2 separate regions of the Homo sapiens genome follow, and region 2 is linked to region 1. The links come from fine-mapping of genetic effects on gene expression. Tissue or cell type: whole blood. Region 1 holds a variant in brackets; the other region holds the start of a gene. All regions are shown on one strand. Distances are between the middles of the regions.

Evidence for each region. PIP is the estimated chance that this variant, and not a neighbour inherited with it, causes the effect.
Region 2: TNFRSF14 starts here. The variant in region 1 is the best candidate, but not a certain one, in a credible set for the expression of TNFRSF14 in whole blood (INTERVAL, PIP 0.52).

The regions. Positions count from the first base shown.
Region 1 is chr1:2,631,400-2,636,759 of GRCh38, forward strand. It overlaps MMEL1 (membrane metalloendopeptidase like 1), which reads right to left and starts at 1,617. Exons shown (of 24, transcript NM_033467.4): 1 at 1,467-1,617. MMEL1-AS1 (MMEL1 antisense RNA 1) reads left to right here. Exons shown (of 3, transcript NR_183343.1): 2 at 1,103-1,276; 3 at 4,957-5,221. The variant G/T (reference allele first, on the strand shown) is at 2,489.
Region 2 is chr1:2,553,657-2,559,016 of GRCh38, forward strand. It overlaps TNFRSF14 (TNF receptor superfamily member 14), which reads left to right and starts at 2,715. Exons shown (of 8, transcript NM_003820.4): 1 at 2,715-3,077; 2 at 4,070-4,178; 3 at 4,687-4,812. The coding sequence starts at 3,009. TNFRSF14-AS1 (TNFRSF14 antisense RNA 1) reads right to left here and starts at 3,355. Exons shown (of 7, transcript NR_037844.2): 1 at 3,321-3,355; 2 at 1,068-3,040; 3 at 445-640; 4 at 1-158.

The DNA.
Region 1 (5,360 bases):
CCCCCCTGCTGTGGACTTTGCCTGAGTTCTGTCCCTGACTCCCTGGGAGATCCTAGATGTCCCTTAGCCTGTCTGGGCAACACCCTGCAAAGGTGGCTGGGCCAGCTCATTTCAGCGACTCCTCCAGAGATCCCTGACCTCTGGCTGTGTGAGGAGCGGGGACGGGGACCTGGACCTCACTCCTCTCCTCCAGGTCCCTCGCTCCTCCCTTCCTGTCCCCTCAGCCACCTCTCTCAGTCCCTGGCTCTGTGAACCGCAGCGTTCATGCATCCACACACCCTCAGATGCTTCCTTTGACGCCCTCTGCTGTGCCCCTAGACACCCCTATCCCGCCACTGGCTGAAGCTGGACTTTGGAGCCATCTGCCTCCCTTGCCTGCGTCCACACCCCGCGCCAGTCCTCAGCCTCCAAGCCCATCTCAGTCGGACCCTTTCTCATTCCTGCCACTCGCTGCCTGTTCCAGGCCCCACCAATCACCTCCCCCTGAGGGGTCTGTCTCACCCACTGATCCCCACCACAGGGGCCCAGGGGCCTGTAACTAGAATCAGAGGCCGTCACTCCCTGGCCCCTGGTAGCCAAACCCTTGGAGGAAGAGCCGGGCCTTGCCCTGATGTCAGGACCCTCTTTGGCCCTCCTCCCCTCTCACTATGCCCTCCCCTTACCCTCAGGCAGGCCCACCAGGTTTCTCCCCCCACCCTCCCCACCCACCCAGGCAGGCCTCCCAGATTCCTGCCAAGCTCCCCTTCCCAGTGGGGCCTTCCTTGGCTCGGCCTCGGGTTCAACTCGGGGAGCCCCAGCCCCTCCCCTGCTCTGTGTCTCTCCAGGGACTCCCAGCTCCACCTCCACATCTCCTCGATACTTCTGCAGCCCCCTGGGAACGTCAGCTCCACGGGCAGGGGCACCCTCTGTGGGGGCCGCTTCACCTAGACTGGCACCCCCACCCCAGAGACCTCGGTCATTATCTGTTGGGTGAATGAATGAATGAATGATGAATGAATGGATCAATCATTTGGACAAGTCTGAGCTCAGCTTCCACGAACTTCTTTCTTTGGTCAGAATTAATGAATCTGCTCCTGCGTCCTGAATTCATTCTGTCCTGCAGGTATCCACAGACGGCTCCATGTGCCCCACGGCACACACAAAATAAACACCTTCAAATTGAGCCAAGTACCCGGGGCAGGTGTGGAGTGTCTGCTGAGGCGAAGGCACTGCGGCTCCCTGGGGACACTCGTGGCCTCTCCAGGTTACTACAGATGGGGGACAGCGGGTCCTTTGGGTAAGATAAACCGTATGCCAGAGGGGGCTGCCTGCCCTGGCACAGGCGAGACTGCACACAGGACGCCCTGCCCAGCCTCCTGAGAAAGGGGCTGAGCGCCTGGAGAGGGTTTCAAGGCCCAGGAGAGGGCCTGGAGAGGGTTTCAAGGCCCAGGAAAGCAGGCCGGGTACCTTCCTTCAGCACAACTCACCTTTGCTCACTCAGGAGTGGCTGCCGCCCACAGTCAGGCCCCTGGAGACTGGGTCCCAGTGGGTTGGAGTTGGGGTGAGCTGGGCCAAGTGGGTGGATTTCCAGGGACTGGGATGGGAGAGCAGTGGCTTGGGGCTGAGTTGAGGCTGCCTGAAGGCTTCTGGGCCTCCTTTGTGATGCAGGCATGGGCTCCCTGGAGGCGGTGACTCCTGCTCACAGTCAGGAGGTTCCACTGGGGGTGTGGCATGGGGGGAGGGGCTGAGGGCAGCTTCTTGGCACCCGGGCTGCCCTGCCTCATGGGTGCCCTTCTCAGGGCCTCTGGCCCCGCCTCCCAAGCCGCCCTCCTTCCTTGCTTCTGTCTCCTGACCTTTCAGTCCAAAGGGGCCCCAGGGGCTGCTGGGAGGAAGGTCAGGCCCTTGTCCTACTCCACACCCTCTGCTCTGCCCCTAACCACCCGGTGGGGGGTTACAAAGGCCCCACCCTGGGTGTTCTTTCTCTTCAATCTCCAAGGAGGATGGTGGGTTCTGGGGATCTTGCCAAGGTGCAAGGGGAAGGGGTGGTCCTGAAGGGGGTGGGCGCTGGCTGCCAGGAGGGTCCCACCCAGAGATACTAGCCTGGGTTTGGCTGCTTCCCTCTGCCCACAGAAAACTCATGAGGTTCAGACCTCAAGCTACAGAGGGTGGGCAGCCCTGGCCGGGGAGCTGGCAGAAGGGCTCTGTGGCTTCTGAAGGGTTCGCAGTGATCAGAGTGTGAGCCCTGCACCCAGCCCTGCTTGCGGACGGGGGTTCTGGGCAGAGCAGTCTCTGTCTGATTCTCCAGGCCTGATGAGGTTTCTAGCTTCTGTTTCAGAATCCCCAGAACGAGTCCTCCTGCCCAGGCCTTGGGCATGTGTCAGGGCATCTGGGCAGGGCTGGGCCACAGAGCTAGGGGTCCCACGGCAAACTGCTCCTCACGGCCGCCCCGGCCAGGTCTCCCACGCTGAGTGCTGTTGGAAGCTTTGTCTATGGCCCTTTAGGTTGGCCA[G/T]GCCCTGGGAGGAGAAAGGCTTCGAGCTGCAGCCAGGCTGGGATCAGATCCCAGACACCACCCTGAGCCCGGGAAGTCTCTCCCTGGGGCCCGCTGGCTGTCCTAGCAGCCCCCTGCCATCACGCCCAGCAACCAGCCCAGGAGCTGCAGTCTGGCCTCAGGCTGCCTGGGTTGCTGGCCCAAATGGAAACAATGTCAAGGCCAGCCAAGCAGGAAGCTGGGACCGCCCTTTCTGGGGAGCTGGGAGTGGGCCAGGGTCCAGCCTGGCTGGAGGCTCCTGCTATGGGGAGAGGCCAGAGCCTTTCCGAGCCCACCTGCCCGACAGCCCTGGTGCCAGCAGGCCCTTTCTGGATGTCACAGTGTTCTTGTCTCTAAGGTACAAATCCACAGAGGGAGAAACAGATGCAGGGGCCTGGCCTACTCTCAGCAGGGGCTCCCTGGACTCTGAACCGACTCCCCAAGGCTGGCCCTGTGCATGCTCCTCCTTCCCGAACCCCAGGCCTGTCCAGCCCAGCAGCCCCCAGCCTGGCCCAAGGCCACCTGGTGACCTGGGCTGCCAAACTTGGGACCCCTTATTCCCAGGTTCTCCCTACTTCTAGGTGACAGCAGGAGGCTTGGGTCCTAGCCTGGCACCTGCCAGACAAGAGAAACTGGGAAAGGAGGCTAAAGGCCAAGGAGGCTGCAGACCCCGAGACCTACCCCGGTCACTGGACACTCACAGATTTGCAGGTGCCCAGGGCAGTGCAACCCAGCCGCCCCAAACACCTGCACAGATGACTCTCTCCCCAGACACCCGCACAGACCGTCCCCCCAGACACCCACACAGACCATCCCCCCAGACACCCACACAGACCATCCCCCCAGACACCCACACAGACCATCCCCCCAGACACCCGCACAGACCATCCCCCCAGACAACCTACACAGAATAAACTGTCCCCCCAGATACCTACACAGACCATCCCCCCAACACCCACACAGACCATGCCCCCAAACACCCACACAGACTGTCCCCCCAAACACCCACACAGACCATCCCAACACCCACATAGACCATGCCCCCAAACACTCACACAGACTGGCCCCCCAAACACCCACACAGACCATCCCCCCAACACCCACATAGACCATGCCCCCAAACACCCACACAGACTGTCCCCCCAGACACCCGCACAGACCATCCCAACACCCACATAGACCATGCCCCCAAACACCCACACAGACTGTCCCCCCAGACAACCTACACAGAATAAACTGTCCCCCCAGACACCCACACAGACCATCCCCCCAGACACCCGCACAGACCATCCCCCGCAAATACCTGCATGGATTGTCCCCCCAGACACCCGCATAGCCAGAGCCCAGCACCCCGGAGGTGGACATTAATCCCATCTCCTAGGGAGATTGGGGGAAAATGGGTGTTCCCTGCCCCTCCTACTCTCTGGGTTGCTGTGGGATGTGGAGATCCAAGGAGCAGCCCCAGCTCAGGGGTCCAAGGAGGCAGGTGGGACGGGGGTCAGGGAAGTGCTTCCTGCAGCAGCCCTGGGGCCAGGGTGGGCCTTGAGGGCACTAGCCTTTGTCCACACTGCTGTGGGGCTGCCCTCACCCAGGTTGCCGTGTCCACCCTGCCTTGGGGGCTGCCCTCAGGCCCTGGAGACGCCTGCCTGTGACTGCCCCACACTCTCAGGCCAGGCTACTGGTGGCAGGTCCTGTGCTTTGGTGCACCCCAGACGTGCCCAACGGGCATTTCCTCTGCCCATTGGGAGCAGGGCCTCTCCCTCAGGTCTGCCCAGCTACGCTCTGGGCAGGAATGAGGTGCCCCACTTAGAGAAGATGCACAGGTCAGAAGAGGCTCACCAGCATTTCTGGGTGAGCCTCTTTCCGGCTGCTGGGACGACAGCCGGGCCTCTGGGGTCCCCACCTTCCTTGTCAGCTGCCTCCTGAAGTCAGGCCCTGGGTATCCAGGGCAGGAGGGAAGGGGCCCAGTGGTCCCGCTGCCCCAAAATCTGTGTCATTGAGCCACCAGCCCATCCCCAGTAGCTGGAGCCTCTGCCTCCTCACTTGTGAATTCCAAAAATCTGAGACAGGTCTCAGCCAATTTGGGAAGTTTATTTTGCCAAAATTAAGGATGCACACCTGTGACACAGCCTCAGGAGGTCCTGACATGTGCCCAAGGTGGTCAGAGGACAGCTTGGTTTTATACATTTTAGGGAGATATGAGACATCAATCAACACATGTAAGATAGAGTTACATTCTTTTGAGTTTCTGATGAGCCTTTCCAAAGAAGGCAATCAGATATGCATCTATCTCAGCGAGCGGGGGAATGACTTTGAATGGAATTGGAGGCAGGCTTGCCCTAAGCAGTTCCCAGCTTGACTTTTCCCTTTGGCTTAGTGATTTTGGGGCCCCAAGATTTATTTTCCTTTTACTCTCCTAAAAAGGTTTTTTTTTTTTCTTTTTTTTCCAGATTGATCGCAGAGTTGAACAACAGAGAATGTGTGCACAGTGCCAGGCACAGGTGTGGTCAAGATTCACCTGGGAGAGGAAGTGGGCAGGGGCAGAGGAGTGTGCCCACCTGAGCTGAAAGGCTGCATGGCAGGTGACCATTATCACCAGTGTCGCCAGCCAGGTCACCTCTCTGAATTTTGTGGTTGCAACCTCCATGATTCCCTAGAGCTGTTTTTACCCAGAACTAATGAAAAATTCTGCACATTAAATTCATGCTATTAGAATCACTGTTGTGGTTTCCATCTCCCAAGTAGACCCCAACTGATACATAAATTCATACTAGGAGGGGGTCCCCAGAGACAGGCCCTCAAAGTGACACAGTCAGGTACCTCTTTGGTCACTTTGCCAGCCAGGTACCTCTGG
Region 2 (5,360 bases), 78 kb before region 1:
TCCATCTGCTCTGCACACCGTCCACTAGCCTGACAGCTGCCCAAAGCCTCCAGAGCACAGAACGGGCCTGGTGTCTGCGCCTCCGTCTCGGGGTGGGCCACGGCCGGTTCTGTGTCCCGTCCCCTCCCCGCTCACCAGCGGTGGACCCCAGCTTCCCTCTGCAGCAGCACTCAACTCACACACTTTCTCAGAGACGCGCAGCCCACCTCGCCCCCGCAGTTTCCTCTTCATCCCTCAGAGCCCCCCATGGCCTGGGCAGTCCATCCTGAGTGTCCGCACCACACGACTGTAGACGTTTGGCTTCTGGACTCAAATCCTTCACCAGATCGTGACCAGGATGGCAATGACCAGGCCTCGGCCTCAGCCCCCTGCCTGGCCTGCACTGGCACAGCATTGGGTCTGGGGAGTCCCCGCGACAGGAGGCGTGGGGCTCGGGGTGCTCACCTGCCTCCCTCTCCCTGCTGGTAATGGTGGGCCCCGGGATGGGGGCAGTGATATCCTGCGGGCAGCCGTGTCAATGCAGATGGCTGGGTGCTGGGTAGGGCCCCGTCTCCCGCCTCCTTGGGCTGCCTCATTTCCTTCCTGATGACCCTGGGGTCCTGCACAGGGCCTGGCGGTGCTGGTGCCGGGAGAGCCCACGCTGAATGGATGAAGGAGTGAGTGCTGTACTTAGCGGGGGGCGCTGAGCGCTGGGTGGGGAGCCCAGGACATTTCCTCCTGCTGCCCGGGAGGTAACACCCTGGACCCCTGGAGTCTGCATTCTGTGAGAGCGGGCAGGCCACAGAGAAGGGAGAAAAGGGACGGAGGGCCGAGGCGGGCGGATACGGGGAGCAGGGAGCGGGGACAGGGCTTACTCAGCAATCAGAGAAGGCCTCAAGGAAGAGGTGACATTTCAGCAAAGACCTGGCACTGTCTGTGCCCTCGGTGGGGCAGATGGGCTCCCTTCAGCCCCCTTGAGGCCTGGCACCTGGGGCCCTATGTCAGGCTTGGGGCCTTGGTGTGGGAGCTGAAGTCGGGGTAGGAGGGGCATGGAGGAAGGGGCAGGAGGGGCTGAGTCTCACTGATGCCTGTGTTAGTCTTGTCTCTTGCCATGCCTCAGTTTCCCTCCTCCCCAGGGTGGGGTGGATGAGACGACTCTGGAGGACGTATCTGAGAGAGTGGGGTTGGAGCCCCGTACCGGCAGGTGTAGGCGCTGTGTCTGCTCTTGGAGGTTGGGCGTTCTTGGGGAGTTGGTGAGGGAACGTGCTGTCCCTGCACCCTGGAGCCCCCATGCCCTCCTGGGGCCCCCGGGAGTGGAGGATGCAAGGGGCCCCCTTCTTCTTCCTTGCAAGACCCACATGGCTCTGCATGTGGGGGACATTCCTGGCAGGGGGCGCTGAGGGCCAGGATGTGAGTGCACCAGGGAAACAGCAGATGGGGCTCCTCTCCCAGGCTCCAGCTGTGGGGTGGGAGTCCATGCTCCTGCGTGTCTCTTGGGGGCTTTTCCTCCACTGGGTGCCACCTGGTCCCCCACCCTGCCTCAGAGTATTGGGGTCTGGGCTCGTCCACCCTGGATGCTGGCCAGGAGTGCACCTGCCTCTGGAGCTCGGGACGCTTGGCCCCACAGGACGGTGTCGCACACCACAGCCGGCCTAACTTCACCCCTGCCTGCTCCCTCTCCAGGGCCGGCCTGCAGGGCTGCACACTTTCTAGTTGGGGTGCAGGTCCCCGGGCTCCTGCCACAGATTCCTGTGGCTGGCCACCCTGCCAACTCTCCTGCAGGTGAGGGTGGGCGCAATCCCCAAGGTCCTTTCCACCAGATGCCACTGAGTCCCCCAGGGGCCAGGGCTGGACCCTGGAGGGGGTCACCTGGCTGAAGTCAGGACCAGGAGGGGCAGGGGGCAGTCGAGGGGCAGGGGGCGGTCCTGGGCCAGGCGTCTGGCAGATGGGCTTGCTGGAGGTGGGGGTTCCTGGTGTGCAGCAGGCGGTGCCAGAGGGGGTGACTGGGACCTGCTCTGGGCAAGCACAGGCGGTGCGTGACAGACCTGGGCTTCCATTGACTGCATCACGTCCAGCAGCAGGAAGGGGCCACGGGGGCACTGGCGTCGTCACGTGGGTCACGAGGTTCCATGTGATGCAGGGAGCGAGGCCGTCACGAGGGACTCACTGGTGCCTGCCTTGGGGCTCCGGGACTGTGGGCTGTCTCCATCCGGAGGTCTCCCTACCACCAGGCTCTGTGGGGCAGGGAAGCCCAGTGGGGTGCAGGGAGCCAGGAAGCTGGGGTGGGGTCAGGGCAGGGTCCACAGGGAGACCGGGCGAGGCTGGCAGCCTTCCCAGTCCGCGCAGCGTCTCTGCAGGGGGAGCAAGAGCTGCCCTTCCACCCCTCCCAGGGGACGGGTAGGGGCACTCTGGGCTTTTCCCACCCCCTCACGCAGGGACACAGGCCTGGTGGGTCTATGACTGAAATTGGCCAGACCGCATTCTGGTGGTTTTATTCGGAAGGGAAGTTTACCCTGTTCAGCAGAAGCTGAGATGGGAACAGGAAACCCACAGGGCCCCTTTATTCGGCAAAAATGTCAGTCAGCGCCCCGGGGAGCAGCCGAGGGTCCCTGAGTGTGTGAGTGAGGTGGGGAAACACAGATGGACTTTGGGGGGCTCCCCCTTCTACAGGAAACCCGGAGTGGACTGGAATGGTGCAGGGGGAGAACTCGCCCCTCCCATCGGGCGCCTCCTTCATACCGGCCCTTCCCCTCGGCTTTGCCTGGACAGCTCCTGCCTCCCGCAGGGCCCACCTGTGTCCCCCAGCGCCGCTCCACCCAGCAGGCCTGAGCCCCTCTCTGCTGCCAGACACCCCCTGCTGCCCACTCTCCTGCTGCTCGGGTTCTGAGGCACAGCTTGTCACACCGAGGCGGATTCTCTTTCTCTTTCTCTTTCTCTTCTGGCCCACAGCCGCAGCAATGGCGCTGAGTTCCTCTGCTGGAGTTCATCCTGCTAGCTGGGTTCCCGAGCTGCCGGTCTGAGCCTGAGGCATGGAGCCTCCTGGAGACTGGGGGCCTCCTCCCTGGAGATCCACCCCCAAAACCGACGTCTTGAGGCTGGTGAGCCCCCGAGCCTCCTCTCCGTCTGCTCGCAGATCCCAGTTCTGACCCCAGGGCCTCCCACAGATCTCTTCCCCATGCCCCTGTCCTGGCCGTTGCTGGCTCCGGCGTCCAGCCCGTCCCCTGCTGCCTGGGGCTCTCGGGTCAACCCAGACCCCCAGCACTGGGCTCACCACAGTGGGGTGAGCAGCAGAGCCACAGCCCTACCCAGCAGACCTCCTCCTGCGTGTGTCCCCCACTCACCACTCCGTCCACGGGCAGCTGGTGAGCCCCCATTTGGCCGGATGTGGGCACTTCTGGGGGCTGGGTGTCTCTGGGCGTCTCTGGGCGGGGCCCTCGAGCAGGTGACCCAACTCCCCGGCAGCCCTGACCTTGGTGACAGGTGATAAGATCAGTGTGCAGCAGGGGGCTGGACCCAGGTGGGTGGGGTGGGGATACTCTCCATGCTCATGTGGCACTCCTGCCTGTCCAGCCACTATCCCCATCAGGGGCCCCCGACTGCCCATCAGCCAGCCCAGGAACGAGGCCACGGCAGAGCCACCCTCCCCGATGTGGCCCTGATCAGCCTGTCACCCACTGTCTGGCTTGTGAGCCTCTGGGGCCCATCCCTGGCTGCCCCTGCTGGCTCTTCAGGGGTCAGCAGGTCCAACCTAGGCCAGCAGGGGGGCCGGCAGGTTGTCTGCCCAGTGGGCTCAATGCTCCCAGGTGTGGGGTGTGGGGTCCCTGGCGAGGGCAGAGTTCCAGTTCCCAGGGCTCCGCGCTGCCAGGCAGCGTCATCAGGGCTGGAGGAGGGGCGGTCCCCACCCTATCCCGGGCTCCAGCGGTCGGCAAGGTTGTTCCATGAGCCTGGCCTGGGGCCCGCTTCTGTCCTCTCTACCAGGCACTGCCGCTCCTCCCCATTGCACAGAGGGAGATTCAGGCTGTGGGGCCAAGCCTGGCAGAGCCCACAGGGCAGCCAGGGCATCTCCCAATGCCTGTCCTGACCCCCTTAGGTGCTGTATCTCACCTTCCTGGGAGCCCCCTGCTACGCCCCAGCTCTGCCGTCCTGCAAGGAGGACGAGTACCCAGTGGGCTCCGAGTGCTGCCCCAAGTGCAGTCCAGGTAGGTGCAGCCCTTTGGCGGGCCAGCTCTGTGGGCCGAGGGCAGACACTCTTGCCCCCTTCTGCCCCAGACACCCCTGTGTTCTCTGCCCCCACAGCCATGGGTGTGATGAAGCCCTGGGGCTAGGTGTGCAGACAGTGAGGGCAGAACCCCCAGGCCAGCAGCTTGGACTCTTCACCCTGGGGGACCCTCACAGTCACACTGCACAGGGGGTGGGTCTGAGAGACGTGGCTGGCCCACCGTGGCCAGAGACATGGGCTCGGGGGCACATACCAGAGCCGGGCCAGGTGTCCCAGGAGGCCCCATGTGCTTCCAGAACTTTCCGATTTTCCCCAGAGCAGCTCTGCTCATGGCTGATGGGGCTGCTGTGTCCCGTGGGGCTCATGGGCCATTTGAGTCCCCTTAGCTGGTGTCTCCCTGCTTGGGCTCTGGGCGCGGGTGGAGTGATGGGTGGGCTCCCGAAGGGGCCTCCCGCAGACTTGCGAAGTTCCCACTCTCTGGGCGGCAGGTTATCGTGTGAAGGAGGCCTGCGGGGAGCTGACGGGCACAGTGTGTGAACCCTGCCCTCCAGGCACCTACATTGCCCACCTCAATGGCCTAAGCAAGTGTCTGCAGTGCCAAATGTGTGACCCAGGTAAGAGGCCAGCACAGCCGGCCCAGCCTCCGCTTGGGCAGCCTGGATGCCCCCGCACCCTGCACCCTCTCTCCATGGCCACAGTGCCCCAGGAAGGCCCCGGCTGCCCCAGGCCAGGTCCCAACCCCATCTCCATGGATGCACCCTGCAGGGGACGCCTTGAGGTCAGCCTCCGGCCCCCGTCCACCTCTGTCTCACCTCTCACTTTGTCACCGCCAGGTGGGCCATCCTGAGCTTGGCGACTGACCCTTATCCCTCGTCCTTGGCTCCTCTGGTGCCCGGGGTGGGTGCCCAGACCTCTCCTGTGCCCACGTCCCTAGCTGCAAAGTGGAATGGGATGGTGCTGGGACTCTCCGGCCGGCACTCGGGCCTGCTGCTTCCCCACAGGGCTTCTTGTCCCTTTCTCCTCCAGATATTGGTTCCCCCTGTGACCTCAGGGGAAGAGGTCACCTGGAGGCTGGTGCCCACCTGAGTCCAGGCAGACAGAAAGGGGAACCAGACCCAGAGGTGGCCTTTGAGTCACTGAGCGCAGAGCCTGTCCATGCGGC